Regions from separate parts of the Homo sapiens genome. Here regions 2 and 3 are each reported to be linked to region 1. The links are microRNA targets in miRTarBase. Many come from high-throughput screens and were not tested one by one. Region 1 holds a microRNA gene; each other region holds the end of a gene's coding sequence.

Region 1 (3,111 bases):
AACAGTGCTGTAAGGAGTAAGTCAGATAGCCCCTGGGACAAGTTGCCTGATAGGATACATGTTAACCCATTGAATTTGTATTTCAGAAAAGCAATAAATGTGTTTTTTTTTTTAAGTATAAGCATGTCCCATGCAATATTTGGGATATGCTTAAACTAAAAGTGATTTGTTATTTATTTGGCATTCAAATTTAACTGGGTAACCTGTCATTTTACTAAGTCAGGCAGCCCTATCCCAGGAGCATTGTGACTGATTGCCAAGAGCACCAGTCATTTATCTTCTTGCTTCCAGCTTCCTTCCTACTCTCTGCTGCTATCCCCTGTGTCGCGGGGTGCTGGGATCCTACAAATACATTTCTCAGTCTGGAGCCTCTGAGTATGGGTGTTGGATTAGTGATTACCAAAGAGAAGAACTTGCATGAGTTTTGAAAGGGTCGGGGTGGGGGTGAACTGTGTGAGATTGGAATATGGGGCTCTTCCAATGGGAAGCACAGACAGGAACTGGAAGGCTTTTGGGTTCCCTCCCTTTGTCCAGAGCCTCCATAAGGGAAAGACTGGCTCCCACGTGGTCCCCAGGCAGTGTGGTCGCAGTGAGGCAGCAGTGTCGAGCACAAATGCAGCAGCCTGTGGGGCACGGCAGGTGCAGGCTCTGGCTCAAGCCATGGTGGTGACGGGCTGGCAGCTTCAGGCTCCCAGAGTCCTGAGACAGCATCAGGGCCCTGGGCTCCTGCATTCCTGCAAGGTGGTGGTCTTGGTTCTAAGGCTGCCATGAATACTCTCAGAGCCTCAGTGGTGGGGGATTACGGGCTCTTGGTGAAACCATTTTCTCTTTCACTCCTTCAGCACAGAAGTGGTAGGAGCTTTCTGCAGTTCTTAATCTCTTGGCCATCTTACCTTCCCTTTCTACCTTCTTCTGGATCTCCTGCCCCTTTCTAAATGATTCATTTTCAATAGATTCCTTCTGTTGGAATGCATAGGGTGGTAATGCCTTCTTACCAGACCCTGCCAGAAGTAGTGAGCTAAGTCTTTTATTCTTATCATCTGCAATCAACAAGAGCCTCTCATGCATCATTACATTCATCATTTCATCACCAAACACATCATTGCATAATCAGACACGTCATTACATCATCACACACATCATTACCTCATATGTGCACCTCCCACTCTCCACCTAGACACAGGGAAGAGAGGAAGGCACCAGGAAATCAGAGTGGTAAAGAAAACTTCAGGAAATCAGGTGGTTTTAAGACCCTTTATTATGACTTAAATAAATTCTGAAATTAGTTTCTTTAAGGAAGGCCCCTAAACCGGGAATGAACATGAATAAGAATTATAGTCATTTTAGCGACCATAGTTTCCCCAGGAATTATTGCACTAAGGCATTTAAATTTTTTTCCAAATGCTAAAATATTTTGTCAGCTTTATTGACCATTCTTTCTAACCCCTCAGTAAATTATATCTCTATCTGAAGTGGAACATAGGAGATGCCCTAAGCTTCTCAAAGATGTTTTGTAACGATCTAGGTAAGGACTGTGTCTAATGGAAATGACAGGCATAATTTATTTGTGAAAGCAGAAATGAAATTCAACCTTGACAACAGATTGCGCATTTTTCCATAATGCCATGGAAGTGAAATTCTTGTGATGTAGATTAAATCGTGGAATTTGACTTATTGTTCAAAAACATTAGTTCAACTCTAAACAGTTGAATTACTCAGCAGCTGTGTACAAATGTATGATACAGATAACAAAATGTATTAACAATTCCCTAGATCTACAGAAATCTATCACTGCTTTTTAGGATAAGCTTGACTTTTGTTCAAATAAAAATGCAAAAGGAAAGTGTATCCTAAAAGGCAATGACAGTTTAATGTGTTTCTGACATGCAACCTTCAAGAGATCCATATATGAACCATTTTGTGTGGATAGTACAACTCTAAACATAATGTTATGTGGAAATTTGTATACAGAATATTTAGCAAAGAAGAGTCAGGATGAATAAAGTGAAAGGAAAGACTTTCCCAATGTTATTTTTTAAGTGATATGAGATGCATCAAGTGAGATGTGTTTGACAAAACTTTATTCAACGTTGATCCTGACAGAAAAGAAGCAGGAAAAAACAATTAATACACTTCCTATGTCTTGAAAAGTAGCAATTTTAATTTTATTGTGCATTTTGCTTGACGATTTTATATATGACTTCCAGTCAATATTTCATCTGGAGGACTGAGCAGGTATTATGATTCCCATTTTATGGCAGATTGCAAGGTGAATGTCACCTGTCATCAGCGCATACCTGGCCAGGGGCCACGTCTTCCAGATTCCAGCCCACACGGCATGGGTGCCTGCATTTCCCTGTTGCTCTTCTCCTCACACTGATATTAATGAAGCACATCTACTTTTAGTCAATAACCACTTTTATGTTACAGACACATAACAACTGGGAAATAAACATCTATATAATTAATCTCAACTAAGCCAGTTAACCCTTACTTTTTACCTAGGCTGTATGCTGAAATGTGTGCCTTTTCTATAAAGGGGTTTGTATTCCTCTCATTATATTGTATCAGGAGGAATCACTCTAAGATAAAACAGTTTATCTCCAAAAGTCTGCAGAAAATGTTGATAACAACCTGCAACTCTCTGGTAAAGGACTGTGAAATGCAAAACAAACCAAACCAAGCCCCAAGACCTACTCATGTAAGATGATGCTATGATACATTGCATTCATCTTTAGCTTTTTAGCCGTCTAAATTGTGTTCTATGAGAGTCTTAAATATCTTCCCTTTATCTCCTTAAGAAAGTCCTAAATTCTTAGCCAATTTTTTTTCCTTTTTTTTTTTTTTAAGAAAGGATCTCGCTCTGTTGCCCATTCTGGAGTGCAGTGGCACAATCTCGGCTCACTGCAACCTCCGCCTCCCGGGTTCAAGTGATCTTCTGCCTCAGCCTCTCGAGTAGCTGGGACCACAGGACTATAGGTGTGTGCCACCATGCCCAACTAATTTTTGTATTTTTAGTAGAGACAGGATTTCACCATGTTGGCCAGGCTGGTCTCAAACTCCTGATCTCAAGTGATCTTTCTGCCTCGGCCTCCCAAAGTGCTGGGATTA
Region 2 (3,111 bases), not on the chromosome of region 1:
GAGGTCCAGGCTACAGCTAGCCATGATCACACAACCGTACTCCAGACTGGGAAGTAACAGAGCCCGTCTTAAACTAAAAAAAAAAAACATGGCCGGGCGTAGTGGATCACACCTATAATCCCAGCACTTTGGGAGGCCGAGGCAGGCAGATCACGAGGACAGGAGATCGAGACCATCCTGGCTAATACAGTGAAATCCCGTCTCTACTAAAAATAACGAAAAATTAGCCAGGTGTGGTAGTCCCAGCTACTTGGGAGGCTGAGGCAGGAGAATGGCGTGAACCCAAGAGGCGGAACTTGCAGTGAGCTGACATAGCGCCACTGTGCTCCAGCCTGGGCGACAGAGCAAGACTCCGTCTCGAAAAAAAAAAAAATTTTTTTTACAAAAAATTAAAAAAATAAAAAGTGCCAGGCTCGCAGTATAGCACTCAAATGCTATTTGTCAGTTTCATGGAAGAGAAAATTTAAGTCTTGTCATTAAAAAACTAAATACAGCTTAAGGAAAAATAAACTCCCAAGTAACCAAACTTCAAAGCAGGGCCAGGGGACATAAAACCCCAAACACTTCATTTAACAATGGAAGACACTTTATTATTATTATTTTTAATCATCTCTCAACATTTCAACTCTTGGTAGAAATCAAATGTAAAACATCTGCATTTTTAAATTAGCATGTATTTAACTATCTCAATCACAGCAACCTCATCCAGTAAGATGCACACCTGGGAGCAGGGCTGTAGTATTTCGTATTCCAGTCTGTGACCACAGTGCGTCCGTGATGACAGGTACACTGGACTTTCCCTCCTAGGATGTGTTAGTCATTCCTGCTTTTGTCCATAGGGTAAGTTACGTGGCATCACGGTTGGTTAGAAAGAGTTAGTTACTGTAATGCTGGCGCAATCTGGAAATGGAAAACTAGAAAACTAGAGCTCTCAGGAGTGGGCCAGGCATTGCCGATTCTGAAATGTGAAAAGGAAGAACATCAAAGATGAATGCCCTGCTAGGCTGGTCTTAGTAATAAAGTTGGTTGAAATTCAGCTTAATATACACACTGTACATCTACATGTGATCTACCAGATAGATATATATATATATATATATATATATATATATATATATATATATATATATTAAAAAGAGAGCCATAGAAGATTTGGAAAACCTTAAAATCACTCAACTGAGTTGGAAGAACATCAGCAAATTCACAGTGGCCTCAGGATTCAGCCAGACTTAAACTTGCTCAAGAGCTGAATAACTTTCTCCCAGAAAAGCCCACTGCATATAAATCCCTTAACATTGTGTACATCACAAACAGTTATGGCTAAAATATAGTTAGTTCACAAGGAAGCGGCTTTATTTTCAAACTCTTGCCCCACTCCTGCTCTTGTACCCCCACAAGGAAAATCCAGGGGTTGGTAATTCACATGAGAAGCTGAAGGGGCCTTCAGGCTTGGAAGCGCTTAGGCTTAGCTGAGCATCTGAGGAGCCGTCTCTCTGATGGGCACATGCCGACTCCTGCCCACTTTTAGTGCAAAAAGATTGCAAATGTTGCAGATGAGTCCTGGAAACTGGTGAAGAGAAGAGGATTGAGATGGAGGGGCAGTAGGAATCCCAAATGATTTTCCTTCTGAAACGAGACTCAAGAAGTGTGAAGTGCAAGGTTCCTGCTCAGCAAGCTATAGGTCCGACAGGTGAGGTCCCTGAATTGTCATAGGTTAGCAGTCTGCAGACACACAGACCTCGACACCCGCGCTCACCCCCTAAGTGCACACTGGAGGTAGGTGTATAGATAGTTACTGCAGGGAAGACAGTGGCTCTCCACCAGCTCAAGAAAAGGAGGCTTCATGTCTGTTCCTCCCTGCCCCAAACTCTCCTCTCCCCTCGGGCCATAGTGAGTGGAGGATACAACACGAATGGGCGCGAGGCCCTCCCTTGGAAGACTAAAGAACCCAGGGCATTTAATAAATAGCTACATAATTCATTTTTTTAACCACGTTGAAACACACAGCAAGTTGAATATTTATTTAAAAATAAATCTCAAAAATATCTATTGACAGTACAGTAAGAGGGGCATGTGCAAACAACAGAAAGGGGGAAGTCAGTCCTGCTGTGGGAAGCCCACACATCAGTGTGTTGGAGCAAAGTTCACGAAGGCCATGGGCTGACTGAGCTGTGGTGTACGAAATGACATTCAGCTAATACTGGACTCGGTTCACCTTTGACACCTGGAGAGGTGGGGAAGCCAGGGGGTGGGGAGTCCAGCTGGGGATCCTTGTGTTTAGGAAGGGGGCGGCCAAGGGATGAGCCTTTGGGAGAGGCCCCGTGTGGCAGGAGGGCTCATTTCACAAGCCAACAGGCCTCTAGCTCGCCGCTCCAGGTGGATGTTTGGTGACCTGAAGGGCCCTTCCCAGTCCAAGTTGGCTTTGCAATGGGAGGGGTAGGTGCAGCGAGGGTCCCAGAGACAGAAATCCTCTTTAAAGGAAAAAACAAAACAACAAAACAAAACAAAACAAAACCCCAAAAAAAGAACCAACTGAACAGGGAGTGGAGAGATTAGCAAAATGAATCTGAACGGAAGTGCCACCTTCTCCCTTGTCAGACAACAAAGCAGCCATTGGTTGAGATATCTGAGTCGCTAAGTGAACTCCCACGTGGACACAGCCAGCCCACGATCTCTGCCACCTACATGGTCAAGTGCAGGCCTCCGCCTCTGAGATCAATGCGTTAGTACTTCTTCACCGTGAAACCCGAAAGGTCGGTTGATGTAGCCCTTGGAGCTGGAAGGGGCGAGGCCGGTCTATCTGTACACGAGATGGGAGAGCTGGGTGGACTTGTAGTTCAGCTGGTTGTTGGGCATGAACTTGTGCAGCTCACTCTTTTTGTAGCAGGGGTCATAATGGTAAGCGCTGAGGCAGGCGTCACATGAGACTTTTGAACACTGGGTGCAGGTGTTGGTGGCGCCTGGGCGGTTGCAGAAGCCACAGCGGGAAGTGGGCGTGGTGGAGGGCTTGGATTTGGAGTGAAGGTGCGGGAGGCGGTCGAGGCCCTGAGTCTGGCCTGGGTACTTCTCCCGCAGAGATGCCCCGTGGGCCAGGCTGTCATGAGTCGAGGC
Region 3 (3,111 bases), not on the chromosome of region 1:
ACGACCAAAAAGTAGAGGTGTGGGCTGGCATGAGTGGGTGGGGACTGTTTTCATGGCCTCAGAGTGGCAAACGGGGATGGGAGTAGGGCAGCTGCCAACTATAAATGCTCTTTTCTCTTCCTGAAGGGTTGCTTCAATCAGCTTTTGTATGACATCCGAACTAATGCAGTCACCGTGGGTGGTGTGGCAGCTGGAATTGGGGGCCTCGAGGTAAGCAGATGAGGAGGCTGGGACTGGGACATGGGCATGAGACCAGGGCTGCTCAACCCATCTGAGGCCTCTCTGGAGGAAACAGACTTCTAACTGGGCCTCAGGTAGGGTGTCTGTGGGACAGGCTTCAGGATCCCTATCATGTTCCCTCATCTCTCCCTGTTCCTCCCTCTCCAGCTGGCTGCCATGATTGTGTCCATGTATCTGTACTGCAATCTACAATAAGTCCACTTCTGCCTCTGCCACTACTGCTGCCACATGGGAACTGTGAAGAGGCACCCTGGCAAGCAGCAGTGATTGGGGGAGGGGACAGGATCTAACAATGTCACTTGGGCCAGAATGGACCTGCCCTTTCTGCTCCAGACTTGGGGCTAGATAGGGACCACTCCTTTTAGGCGATGCCTGACTTTCCTTCCATTGGTGGGTGGATGGGTGGGGGGCATTCCAGAGCCTCTAAGGTAGCCAGTTCTGTTGCCCATTCCCCCAGTCTATTAAACCCTTGATATGCCCCCTAGGCCTAGTGGTGATCCCAGTGCTCTACTGGGGGATGAGAGAAAGGCATTTTATAGCCTGGGCATAAGTGAAATCAGCAGAGCCTCTGGGTGGATGTGTAGAAGGCACTTCAAAATGCATAAACCTGTTACAATGTTGCCAGTTGGACTCTTCATGTATCCTTGGGGAGAGGGGCCTAAACTGGCCACGGATTCCTGTGGGGCTGCCAACTCAGAAGGCCCTGGAAAGGAGGGAAGTAGGGTGGGGTTGGGGGTCAGAAGTGGTTATTTCTCCCCTTCATTTGGGTTCCAGGCCTTGGAGGGAAACTAAGAGGGATGGCTGAGAGGGCATGAAGAAGTACAGTTGGGTTAGGCCAGTCTGCCTCCTTATAAAGGGGAGAACTTTGGACTGAAACTACCCCCTCCTGGGTAGGGGCACTGGACTGGAAAGCTATGAAAATAACAAGCTTGTGACGAATTCTTACCAGGGCAATGGGAAAGGGTCACTCCTTAGGTTCTGGGAAGCCCTTCAGGAGCCCCCTTCCTAGGGTCCAGGCTGCCTGCCTTTCCCACTCAGGCAAAACCCCAGATCTGTCCCTGCTTCTGGGATCTCAGCAAGCACTTCATTTTTTCGTTGCTGCTGGCCTACCTGGTGTTCTTCAGACCTCACCTCTTTTTCTTTTCTTTTCTTTTTTTTTTTTTTTTTTTGGGACAGAGTTTCGCTCTTGTTGCCCAGGCTGGAGTGCAATGGTGTGATCTCGGCTCACTGCGGACTCTGCCTCCGGGTTCAAGCAGTTCTCCTGCCTCAGCCTCCTGAGTAGCTGGGATTACAGGCACCTGCCACCATGCCCGGCTAATTTTTGTGTTTTTTTTTTTTTTTTTTTGAGAGAGTCTCGCTGTCGCCCAGGCTGGAGTGCAGTGGCGCGATCTCGGCTCACTGCAGGCTCCGCCCCCTGGGGTTCACGCCATTCTCCTGCCTCAGCCTCCCGAGTAGCTGGCACTACAGGCGCCCGCCACCTCGCCCGGGTAATTTTTTGAATTTTTAGTAGAGACGGGGTTTCACTGTGTTAGCCAGGATGGTCTTGATCTCCTGACCTCGTGATCCACTCACCTCGGCCTCCCAAAGTGCTGGGATTACAGGCATGAGCCACCGTGCCCGGCCACGCCCGGCTAACTTTTTATATTTTTAGTAGAGACAGGGTTTCACCATGTTGGCCAGGCTGGTCTCGAACTCCTGACCTCAGGTGATCCACATGCCTCAGCCTCCCAAAGAGCTGGGATTACAGGCGTGAGCCACCTCACCTGACCTAGACCTCATCTCTTCTTTAGCCCTAACTATCCCTATGCTCCAGGTAGGAAACTAGGGATCGGAAAGGCCAAGATACTTGCCCCAGTCCCACAGGCTTCTGTGAAGAGCTCAGCCTAGATTTGGGCCCAGAACTCCAGCACCTGGTGTAGTCCTGGCTGACATGGTACTAGTTCCACTTGAAGGGGCAGCTGGCCAGAATGTCTGATATAGACCTGATCACTGTTGAGCCAGGAGTGAGAGGCCTGAGGGAGGCTATGGCAAGAGGGTACAGTGTCTGCTACCAAGCAAAGCCCAGCCTAACAAACCAGTCCCCCTCCTTACTTCCCTTTGACCCCTGTAACTCTCTTCCTGAGCTTTTCCAGGGCAGCCCAGAACCACCACCCCCTTGCTGAGCCCAGAAAGGAAGAGGGACCTGGCCAGAACCAAACAGTGCCTTAGAGCTGGTCTGTGAGGGCCAGACCAGGAGCCTGCTAGGGTGCGGGACAGGGGGAGGAGCTAGCCTGCCTCACCCCTTCACCACCATACTGTGCCTCTCACACTTCTCCTCTGCCGTGTGCCTGTGTGGAGGCTGCATGGGATTTGTTTGCCCAGGGCGGGCCTCTACCTCATCATGGGCTAATTGCTGCTCAACCTGGCTGTTGTGCCACCTCAGGCACTATATCCAGCTCCAACAAACACTGAAGGCGTCAGGGTGGCGAGATATGTCCAAGCGACATACCACCCATGCTGTCACCGAGTTGGGCTCCAAGCACCTGTGAAAGAGGCAGGGCAGAGAGCAGGCAGGAGGGCTGGAGTTCCAGCTGGAGTTCTGTACTTGTACAGAGGCAGGCAGACCCTTTCTGAAGAGGTGCTCCACACTCATCCTCCTGACATTAGGCCCTTCACAGATCCCTTAAATGTTCTTTTCCCTGCCGTAGGCTTTCTCATTCACTCCCTCTGGACAATCCCATCCATTTTCTGGTGCCCCTATGACTAACTTAGATCTTCCTAACCTCTTTGGGTTACTGGCTATGTGAGAATCTGATGAAGACCATGACCCATTTCTCCACAAAAATGCCCAGATAGAGAATTCTGAATAGCAAAGTGCTCTAAGGGCCATAG

Evidence for each region. The annotated mature microRNA hsa-miR-651-3p reads AAAGGAAAGUGUAUCCUAAAAG and lies in region 1 at 1,836-1,857, shown strand. An mRNA with a match to its seed (bases 2 to 7 or 8) in the 3' UTR can be bound and repressed. Matches are read on the target gene's strand: a 7mer-m8 pairs with bases 2 to 8, a 7mer-A1 pairs with bases 2 to 7 and ends in A, and an 8mer does both.
Region 2: miRTarBase lists SPATA2 as a target of hsa-miR-651-3p. Seed matches in the 3' UTR shown: 7mer-m8 at 2,477-2,483 and 7mer-m8 at 1,396-1,402.
Region 3: the mRNA of TSPAN1 is a reported target of hsa-miR-651-3p. Seed matches in the 3' UTR shown: 7mer-m8 at 618-624.

What each region holds. Positions count from the first base shown.
Region 1 is chrX:8,125,183-8,128,293 of GRCh38, forward strand. It overlaps MIR651 (microRNA 651), which reads left to right and starts at 1,783; the gene lies at 1,783-1,879. The region is part of intron 1 of LOC107985675 (a long non-coding RNA gene); the gene reads left to right.
Region 2 is chr20:49,902,823-49,905,933 of GRCh38, forward strand. It overlaps SPATA2 (spermatogenesis associated 2), which reads right to left. Exons shown (of 3, transcript NM_006038.4): 3 at 569-3,111. The coding sequence ends at 2,797. Among named protein-coding and RNA genes, the nearest start is that of SPATA2, 11 kb to the right of the region's middle.
Region 3 is chr1:46,185,099-46,188,209 of GRCh38, forward strand. It overlaps TSPAN1 (tetraspanin 1), which reads left to right. Exons shown (of 9, transcript NM_005727.4): 7 at 1-17; 8 at 127-210; 9 at 388-864. The coding sequence ends at 435. Among named protein-coding and RNA genes, the nearest start is that of P3R3URF-PIK3R3, 10 kb to the left of the region's middle.